2 separate regions of the Homo sapiens genome follow, and region 2 is linked to region 1. Evidence: fine-mapped expression QTL. A gene starts in region 1. The other region holds a variant in brackets. All regions are shown on one strand. Distances are from middle to middle.

What was found. PIP is the estimated chance that this variant, and not a neighbour inherited with it, causes the effect. A credible set is the group of variants that fine-mapping cannot tell apart.
Region 2: its variant is the best candidate, but not a certain one, in a credible set for the expression of SNX5 in B cells (Fairfax 2012, PIP 0.86).

What each region holds. Positions count from the first base shown.
Region 1 is chr20:17,966,879-17,972,243 of GRCh38, reverse strand. It overlaps SNX5 (sorting nexin 5), which reads left to right and starts at 3,450. Exons shown (of 13, transcript NM_014426.4): 1 at 3,450-3,869. The coding sequence starts at 3,819. It overlaps MGME1 (mitochondrial genome maintenance exonuclease 1), which reads right to left and starts at 3,226. Exons shown (of 5, transcript NM_052865.4): 1 at 3,103-3,226; 2 at 1,874-2,443. The coding sequence starts at 2,384. RefSeq lists enhancers at 2,232-2,361, 2,382-2,581, 1,521-2,720, 3,302-3,611, 3,228-3,982 and 3 more and a silencer at 3,612-3,821.
Region 2 is chr20:17,938,990-17,944,351 of GRCh38, reverse strand. It overlaps SNX5 (sorting nexin 5), which reads left to right. Exons shown (of 13, transcript NM_014426.4): 12 at 1,157-1,242; 13 at 1,945-2,752. The coding sequence ends at 1,995. Among named protein-coding and RNA genes, the nearest start is that of SNORD17, 21 kb to the left of the region's middle. RefSeq lists enhancers at 3,268-3,859, 3,835-3,924, 3,955-4,044, 5,285-5,362, 5,047-5,362. The variant C/T (reference allele first, on the strand shown) is at 2,757.

The DNA of each region.
Region 1 (5,365 bases):
ATATTTTTCATTAAAAAAATCTTCTTAATTTTTAAAATGTAATTCTTCTTGGGTGCCACCTTCTTGGGTTTGGGATCCAGTATCCTCCAGACCCGTTAATCAATTTAGTGAGCCCTTTTTCTTTTATTCACCATGACACTAATTGTCCCTTTATTTATTTCAGAACCCACTGCTTACTAATACTTATTTTCTAAAAAGAGTGATTCTGCCTGGGCACAGTGGGTCACACCTGTAGTCTCAGTATTCTGGGAGGCCGAGGTGGGAGCACCACTTGAAGACAGGAGTTGGAGACTAGCCTGGGCAACATAGGGAGACCCTTGTCGCTACAAAAAATAAAAAAATTAGCCAGGCATGGTGGTGCACGCCTGTGGTCCCAGCTACTCAGCAGGCTGAGATGGGAGAATCACTTGGGTCCCGGCGGTCAAGTCTGGGCGGGGTGCTGGGGTAAGCGATTCTGCTCATTTCTTAAGGTTGCTACTGAGTTAACTGAGAAACACAGCTGAGTGCTAATCTAGATCAACAAAGCTGACTCTATGAAAAAAAAAACAACCAGTCTTCTCTCTGCCTGGGCTATTGGGGCTCATTCACATTCCAAACAGAAATTCCTCTCTGGTGCACTTCCTTACTTTGTGCCAAGAGCTACAGGCCCTGGGGTCCCATGTGTTCCAGCAGGTTTCTGCCTTTTAATAATACATTTCTTATTAGTAATTTCAGCTGTACATTCCTGGTTTAAGGAAAATAACTTCTCATGAGAAAACTATCAATTCTAAATTTTAGTGGTACAAATACAAAACTGTAAGATGCCATTAGAAGATTTTTATGTTGCTTGCTTGGAAAGCAGACAATAGTTTGGTGGTTGCTACTAATTAACTATCTTAGGAAGGCAGTTAGCTCTTGCATATATAATCCTTGCCCCACACAGCTGAGGAATATTATAAGGAGCAAAGGCCTTGACCATTTGGTACATATCCAATACCACCTATATATACTTAGTATTTTTCTTTAGAACATGTGACATGTTTAATGTGTTACACGCATAGTTTTAGGAGTCTGGATTAGGGAAAAGACGACTTAAATAGAAGCCCAGGCTATGGCAAGGGTCAGTACACTATTCTTAAAACAAAAATGAAAGAGTTTGTGTACTACTAAGAGTACATGTACTGCACTTTGGGAAGCTTGGGTAAAGGAATGATTGATGTGAAACTTTCCTTTAACAAAAGACCCCTATATAATTTATGGGACTAGCTAATTCACCAGTGCCAATGGTCTTTGTTTTTGAATGGAATATTAAATTTAAGGAAGCTATTCTCCTCACTTGTCCAAGTTAGTAAATTAGAAGTTGAAGGTTAAAGTGTATTTATCCTCAGATCCTTATGAAGAACCTCTGATTATGTTTACCAAGGTCTAAATATAGGTCATGTGTTCTGGTCTGCTTCAAGGTCTTTAAATTTACGAGTCAGTTTACGCTAATAAGTAGGACAGTGGGTATTTACTGGATTCTAAACAGAATTATCTAGCAAACAACTAGAATTCTGTTACCAGGTGACTTTTTTCAATAATCAAGGAAAACAAGCAATTCTAATATTGTTGGTAGCTTATAAAACAAGTGAATTTTATGTATTATTTAGTCAAATATTTGATCTATTTTAGTTTCATCTGTAAAATGTGGATAACAGTATCTATACTCCACAGGACTACCATGAGGATCAAGTGAGTTAATACACATAAAGTGCTATTTAATGTTAATTACTATCTGAAGGGAGTTCCTTGCTAGTAAGTTAAAAAAACAAAACCAAACCTCATTCTTTTGACACCGTTGCTCTCTATTATAGAAAACATAGCAAACATATAGAATCAGAATTGAGATAATTACTTGAAGTGTATTCTTTAAAGCCATCTTCTCCCAGTTCCAGAATCATCCGCTGTTTCCACCTCTCCAACAAGAAAACCTGTTGTTTTGTCATGGTCTGCTGAAGGACTCGGGTCACACTTGGTATCACATTCCTTTGCAAGGGGATTTTCAAAGGAACTGAAGGATCACTTGCATTTGGTTTATCACTTCTCTCTGGATTGAAGATAGGAAACCAGTTTTGTGGCACTCGTCTGTCCTCACCTTGGTTTGGCAGCTTATGCTTGCTCACGGGTCCACAGAGCAAAGCATCTTCCTCCACCGATCCCGGGGTCTGGGCGACGCCTCTGGATGACAAGACAGACTGAACTAAATTAGAGTATTTTTCTTGGTCCACTTCTTCATATGGGTTCACTTTTTTCTTCCGGCCACATGAGTAAGAGGAAGTAGAGAAAGCCACAAGGGCAGCTGATTCCACAGAAAACTTTGAACTCCTGAGCTGCCTGCAAATGGTCTGAAATAACTTCATCTTCATTCAGATTTGTTTTCACTTTAGTCTATTTGCAACGGTCGAAGGCCTTTATGTTTGTATTCCTATTGGAGAGAAAACAACCATCAAAGCGAAAGCTGCATCAGAATGATATTGCACATCAAAATTGTGAACTTTTTCGACATGTTTGGACAGAGCCCTTTCTTAAGAAAGTCGACAGAGCGAGACCCTGCCTCCAAAAAAAATTTATAAATAAATCAAGACTCAATACCCGAAGGACCGACACATACTAAATGCGAATTAGTAGACAGCTTGAGGCAAGACGTCCCAGTTTCTAATCTGCAGGAATGTGACGCCCAGGAAGGGAGGCGTGTGCGAGACACGGAAAAACACAAAGATGGAGCCCGTCCCATGGCGGCCACACAGTCCTAGGTGACAGACGACGACTAATTCCTAGACACCAGGCTCTCTGCTAAGTATTCTGTGTGGATACTTCTCATTTGGTCCTCACACCCTCTACCGTGGGTCTAGAATGAACCCGTTGCACAGACGTGGAAATCGGGTTGGAGGGTCCCGTCGCTCGCCGGTCAGAGCTGGTGGCGGCGCTGAGGTCCCATTACTGTGACCGCAAAAAGTCGCCTCCCGCTCCGCCGTGGGTGCGGACCCCTGGCGGGGCCAGGACGGCGGTGGCCCCTGTGGCAGGAGTCTGGATTAGAGAAAAGACGACTTAAATAAAAGCCCAGCCTACGGCAAGTGTCGGTACCTTGGAAGCCACCACACTTCGCTTAACTCTCAAGGCGCGAACAACCTCTCGCGACCCGTACTTTCATCCGTCCCGCGCTTTGGTTTCGAATTAGGCACAGCCTAAGGCAAAGCAGGTCCAGAATGCCCCGCGGCGCTCACGCCCCACCCGAGGCTTTCGTCGGCCTCCGCCAACGCGCCACCAGTTAGAGGCAGGGAGTACCTCTCCGAGCGGAAGGGCCGGCGTCTCCGAAGCGCGGGAGCCTCCAAATCGCGCCCTTCTGCTCTCACGAGATCTGGTGACGTCAGCGCTCGCTGCCATCTTGGACTCGGGCTGAGTAATAAATTCCCCCCGCACCGAAACGCGGTCTTTCTCTAGACGCGTCTTGCTGGGAGAGTGTCCGTTGCTTCCCGTCCGTGTCGCGGCCCTGCGGTTGGCGGCCTCCTCGTGGAGCGGAGCAAGGGTAGGCCCCACGTGGCGTCTTTGCCCGGCTCCAAGATGGACGGCAGCGGGGACTGGGAGGCTGCTCTGGGGGAGCACGTGGCGCCCTGCTCGCCTGCTCCCGGGGCAGCTGGGATGGTGGCGGAGTCCGGAGGCCTCCTGCCGCCGTCGGGCAGGGAGGCCGGCGGAGGCGGGGCCGTGGCCGCCCCCGAGAGGCGCCCAGGCGGCGGCGGCGGCGGCCCAGCTTCTTCTTTCCTCGCACAGCCAGGCGGCCCCTGCTCGAGTCCCGCGTCGCCATGGCCGCGGTTCCCGAGTTGCTGCAGCAGCAGGAGGAGGACCGCAGCAAGGTGAGGTCCTCCCAGCCTCAGACTCCTGGGCGGGCGGCCCTGCGAGCTCCGGGGTCGCTGCATTCTTTCCCTTGCGCGTCCATAGGCCGTGGCTGCTCGCCGCCATCCCCAGCGCGGGAAGCACCCGTGAGACCCGGGCGGCCCCTCTCCCTGGTCTTCACTGAAGGCTGCCCCGGGGAATCCCTGTGGATGTCCCGGATTCTATTAGGACAGAACCAGAGACGCGGGACCTTAGCCCCAGCTCAGGCGCCGGTGCCGAGCGGACTTGGAGAGATGATCTCTGGAGACCCCGGAATGTTCTTTTTAAAACTTTCCTCGGCTTCGTGGTGACCAGTAGGTGAACGTGAAATTGACTTAACATGCGACAGACCAGTTTGGTTTGTTGCCCCCAAAATACCCTCCTTCCCCCCACCTTTTACTGAGAAGACTTTTTTGGGGGGGGGGCCCAAACAACTTGGGAAATTGCATCAAGCGTCCGAACATGCTGCTTACAACTTTAGAAACGCAAAATGCGTTGTTGTGGGAGTTGTGTAATTTTTAGTAGGTGCTCAAATACTTGCTGAACTTGGTGTCTATTTTTAAGTCTTGCCCATTGATGTAAACTGTCCCTAGGTCACGTGTATCTTGAGGTCTAAAAGATTATTTATGCAATAAATTGAAATTCCCATAGCCAATTAAAGATTCAGACGAGCCTCCACTCTTTTTCATTGGTTCTTTAAATTTGCCTCGGTAGCTTTGCGATGCATGGTTTGCGAGCAACCTTTCTTGCAGAATCGTCAACGTAAGTTTTTCTGACCGATGAAAAAGAACCTCTAAAAATACAAGGCTCTCTTAAAATGTAATTTGGAGCCGTCTTAACTTACACATTTCTTGAGAAGTTAAAGGCACCTCCATAGAGAAACTTGTTCATCTAGTAAGTAAATACCAGAGTTTCAAAGCGGCTGGATTGTTCCAACAAGGGTATCATTGCATTAATTATTAAAATAGAGCTTTCTATACAGGAGGGTGTTGTTTAGAGTGGTTTTTTTTTTGAAAGTTCTTTATTACTAAAACAAAGTGGAAACTTGAGACCACGATTCTTTGTAAAACATTATAAAGGTACTTTTCTCCATAAAGGGTAGATAATGGATTGGGATTTTGGTAGCATTTTATTTTTTCTTTCTTTCTGGTACATTCTTTTAGCTGTCTTGATTCGGAGTCAGCTAGGTAAAAGGACTCAATTGCTTCACCCCACTCTCTGGTAGTACAGTATATTGCAGCTGGTTTTTAAAATGACTTCCACCACCCTGATCCTCCAGCAAAATTGGAGAATGGTTATGAAGGCCATTTCCTGCCTGTTTTAGAGGCTACAGAAACTGTCCGTATCTGTAGCGAAGAGAGTTACATGACATTGTTTTCCTTTTTACATTACAGGAATAAAGAGACAATAAAAATAAATAATTACCCTGACGCGTGGCTTTATTTTTGTTTTCTGATCTCTGCTGATGCTGATAACC
Region 2 (5,362 bases), 28 kb after region 1:
ATTAACATCTTTCATTTTTTTCAGTGGTAATACATTTGAAATTTGCTGTTTCAATATATATTATTGACTGTAGTCACCCTGTTGTGCAGTAGATCTCAAAATTTATTCCTTGAGTTTAGCTGCAGCCTTCTACCCATTCTCTTTCCCACCTTCCCCAGCACCCCACCCTCATCCTCTGATAACCATCATTCTGTTCTCTACTTCTAGGAGTTCAACTTAAGATTTTACCTGTAAGTGAGATCATGTAATGTTTGTCTTTCTGTGCCTGGTTTATTTTATTTGGCATAATGTCCTCTAAGATCCATCCACATTGTCCCATATGAGAGAATTTTGTTATTTTAAAAGGCCGGATAGTATAATGTATCTATACTACATTGTCTTCATCCACTGATGGATAATTCTCAATTGATTTTGTATTTTGGCTATTGTAAATAATGCTGCAGTGAACATGGAAGTACGGATATCCCATTGAGATACTGATTTCAGTTCCTTTTATATTCCCAGAAGTGGGTTTGCTGGATCATATGGTAATTCTATTTTTAGTTTTTTGAGGAACCTCTATACCATTTTCCATGGTGGCTGTACTAATTTACATTCCCAGCAACGGTGTAGAAGAGTTCACTTTTCTCTGCATTGTTGCTAACACTGATCTTTCATCTATTTGAGAAAATGCATTCTAGCAGGTGTGAGGTAATCTCATTGTGGTTTTAATTTGCATTTCCCTAATGGCTAGTGCTGCTGAACGTTGTTTGCATGAACCTGGTATGTCTTCTTTTGAGAAGCATTTTCACAAGCCATTGGTGAAGTATGTGGCTCACCACCACCCATACTCCAGCCCTGTTCCCAGTCACTGGTACCTAGAGGGTGAGAGTGAGGCTGCTCATCAACGTGTTCTCCAAGTCATAAGCTGCTGCTCTCCCACTCACGATGCTTGGTGATTCAGTGATGTTTTCCACTTAAAGACAGTGATAGCTGTATCACCACAGTTAATAGATGTCTGATGTGTCCCAGTCACAGAGATAATACAAATGTGAGGAAATAATGCTGGTGCCTGAAAGCATTGGAGACCATTTGTAAGAATGCCATTTGGTAGTTAAAGTGAACATGAAAATTGTTTAGTTTTTCTTGGTTTCATAAACATTTTTTCTTCCTGTAGAACTGATAAATTTCAAACGGAAGAGAGTGGCAGCATTTAGAAAGAATCTAATTGAAATGTCTGAACTGGAAATAAAACATGCCAGGGTAAGTGTTTTCTACAGATGAAGCCAACATCTTTTATGGTTTTTTCCAAGTTATTTCCCAGTTTACTAACCCATTGTCATCAGGCAGTTGGGGTGGCCTTGTGGTATTAATCGTCTGTAGTACTTAGTTGATGGGAGCCACTCATTGTTTATTTGTAGTCTTGTTTATAATGTCACCCATGACTAATTTTTAGCAACTTTTTTTTTTTTTTTTTAATAGAGATGGGGTTTCACCATTTTGGCCAGGCTGGACTTGAACCCCTGACCTCAGGTGATCCACCTGCCTTGGCCTCCCAAAGTGCTGGGATTACAGGTGTGAGCTAAAGCTCCCAGCCCTAATTTCTAGCAACTTTTATTCAATCTTTCCAAGGCCCTTGCCTTCATGGAACAACGCACTGATAGTGTCTTAAGAAGTTACAGTAAGCAGGATCACATTTAGGAGCAAGCAGGTGAGGGCAGAGGTGCTGGAGTGAACGTCGGCTCTTTGGCTGGTAGCCTTACCCACTGAGGGAGAGGAGCTGAAACATGAAATGGGGATGCGTGGTACGTTGCAGTTCACCTGGGATTTGATGAAGAGAAGGGCCAGCTTGCTCTGGCTGACTTTAAACCTCCCGTGAAAAGCCGTGTTGGTGTACTTGAGTCATTCCAGGTATATGGCAAGTTTTAATAATTCACTGGTCTGCCTTGCCTTTTTTCCCCACAGAACAATGTCTCCCTTTTGCAGAGCTGTATTGACTTGTTCAAGAATAACTGATATGCCTTCACTCAGAAGAAAAGAAATGAATGTGAAAGAAAGCCAAGCATCACTTGCACTTAAATCATTACCACGGAAGATATATTAGCTTCAACTTTAGTTTAAAATTATGTGAATAAATATTTTGATTTCTACAAATCTTAACATTTAACCATGTTGGTTTAAAAATATTATTGCTTGCTACTTGGACATAACTAATTTTTCCTTGTGCATTTAATACCTCTGGGCAGAATCCAAATACTGGGTTCTCCCGTAGTTCGTCTTTAGTTACTAAGAAAGGGTGTAGGACACATTAGCCTTCTGGAAACAAGTAGAAGCCATCACCTGGCCCATGTCCCTACAAACCCATGATTGTCAGGGAGGTGCCAGTTACAGCAGGTGATTCAGCTACTTGAGGTCGGTAACAGACCTTCCATTCCTCACTGAAGGTGGGGTTTGTGTTTTTGTTTTGCCCTGTTACTCCACTGGTAGTCATCTGGTGTTTGTACTATAACAACAGCAAGAAAATCTCATTTATCTTTATATACTCTTTGCACCTCCTTTTTTTAGTCGAGATATAAATATTTGAGGGGAGAGAAATATCTACAGGTATATATGGAAACAAATAATGTGGTCTGCTTTATAAGATGGCCAGATCTACATTAGGAAAAGTATAAGCCCCCTCCCTAATGGCCGCTGGGGGGTGAGGGCGGTGTGTTGTATGTCTTTGGGTGTTTGTTTTTTTATAAAGCATATAATAAAATAATCGTGCTACTAATGTA[C/T]GGCCTGTTTTCGTGGAAACTACAACCAGAGTGTGTCCCAGGAGTGCAGGTGGTGCTAGGGTTTGGCTGTGGTTACAGGGTTTTCAGGTTCTGCCCAGAGTCCTGGGGGCGGTCAGGGGAAATTTGTCCTAGTCTTGACATTCTTAAGTACTCCAGGCCTTTTTTAGATGGTCTCTAAATGTGGGTTTGTCTGTTTGCTCCTGACCTGATGGAGGTTTGCATTTTGGCCAGGGCCTTTACCATAGGGCAGTGGTCCCCAGTCTCAGGTCCATGGCTTGTTAGGAAGAGGTGAGCCAGCATTGCCGCCTGAGGTTCGCCTCCTGTCAGATTAGCAGCAGCATTAGATTCTCATAGGAGTGCAAACCCAGTATTGTGAACTGGGCATGCAACAGGTCTAGGTTGTGCGCTCCTTAGGAGAATCAAATGCCTGATGATCTGATGTGGAATGGTTTCATCTGGAAGCCATCCCTTTCCACACCCCACCTTGTCCATGGAAAAATTGTCTTCCACGAAACCACTCCCTGGTGCCAATGACATGTCTTCAGGAGTTGTGTGTCTATTCCTTTGTTGATGACTGAGCACTTAGGGTGGTAATCTCCTTTACCTTTCTAATAAGTAATTCATGGTAAGACCATGAGACTAAAAACATTTTACCCACCACATTTAGCATCTGTTACAGCCAACTGGTATGAGGGTTGCAGAACTGATTTCAATACATACAGGGAGCATGTTTCTTAACATTTATCTGGTCTTCGTGTCTTGCCTCCCCAGCTATTTACAGGCGGCCACAGTGCCTTCTACCTTCACAGTACATACTTGGGAAACGGTGCACAAAATGAGTGAATTTAAACTTGGCAGTTGTAACTTCAGTCTGGGCTCCTAACCAAATCTGTCCTTCCTACCCATCTCCCCCATAATGTCCACAGCAGCCACCCACACACGCCCAGCATTCTGTTAGTGTAGAGCCAGCACTCCTGCAGTCAGGTTCCTGGGCCGCAGTGCTTGAGCACCAGTGTGATCAGCCCTGATTGGTGGAGCTCTGGCTGTTGGCCTCGGGGCCTTGGTGCATTTTCTTGAGACTAAACCTTGTCAAATGGACAGCAGAGGCATGAATCTTGAGTGCTGGGTCTGCTGCTCACCAAGTGATCTAGGCTGCCTCTCTCAGCTGACTGATCTGTGAGCTGGAGTCAGCACTTCAGAGGCCCCTCAAATTAGTTTTATGCCAGCAATCTCTAATACAGCCTTCATGGATGGTATGATTGTAGATGTTTTACCTGCTGTATTTGTTCCAAGGCTTTTCATTAAATTGCACCTGACAGTCACTTAGGAAATTTGAGGCACTCTGGGTCAGGGATGTAGTCACCTTTCCCCTTCTGTCAGTCACCTAGTGAGTTGCTACCTTTACCTGTATGTGAGGGTGCATTCATAGTGGTCTGGGGTGGGGGGATGGGTTTAGATGCTGACTGCGACCTGTGTGGTGTGCTGAGACCTGGAAAGGCAGGCAGGCACTTGGCAGCAGGAGGAACAGCATCAGGTGGGAATCCACAGCTATCTTGCTGGAGTGCAGGAGAGCATAGGTCCCACATTGAGAAATGGGAATTTGGGTCACTTCAGGGTGATGTGTGGAGAGGCTTTTGCTGTGTGCTTGTATGGTTCTGAGAACTAGTGATCCTCCAGGAAAACCCATGTGGGTGCACAATTCATAGGGAACCCTTGAAGGTTTCTAGAAATGGGAATGGGAAGTGGTTTCAGATGGGCTGCCTTAAGGCATCCAGGCCAAAAAGGCTGTGACTTGCCCAAGGCACGGCTGAGAAAGTTGCCTCGTGGCACACGCAAAACTGCACAGTTCACATGTCATACGATTTCATTAAAAGCTAGGATCCAGCCTGAGAAACAGCGCAACCGTGTCTACAAAAAATGCTAACCTACAGTGGTGGCATACACCTGGAGGGCTGAGGTGGTGGGAGGACTGCTTGTGCCCAGGAGTTCAAGGCTGTAGTAAGTTAAAATCACACCACTGTACTCCAGACTAGACAACAGGGACAACTGCCATCCACCTCCCCTCTCCCCGCCCTCCCCCACTCTGAAAAGCAAAATTAGGAGATTGTCACGAGGAAGGAAAGCACACCCCTGGTCTGTGAAGCCGTTGAGGTCATGTCAGACCACTGGGGTCGTTTGTGGTGACAGAGCACAAGCATTTGGCCAGTTCACCACCCAACACATTCACTTGTGCCATCTCAGGGTTTAGGGGTCTGTTTTCTGAACATTTGCCTTGCGCACCTTTTCTTTGTGAGGTTTCTTTGTGGTAATTCCCAGGCTCAGCTCTGTGAAGGGCGATTTCCGTTTGGAAGGAAACCTTGCACCATCCGCTTTCTGCCTGTAGGCGGCAGGGGCGACCCAGCACAGCCACCTGCCCACCCACAGCTGAGCAGGAGCCTGGTATCCCCGCAGAGCTGCTCAGATTATCAGCTTATAGCTAAGGTAGCAGGAAGAGAAATGTCAGGCTACTTGAGAGTTAAGTAGTTCTGAATGGTGTTTTCCCAGACCAGCAGTCCCCTCCAGGATTCCTGCGGGCTTCAGGTTTCTGGTTACCCAAGACACAACCT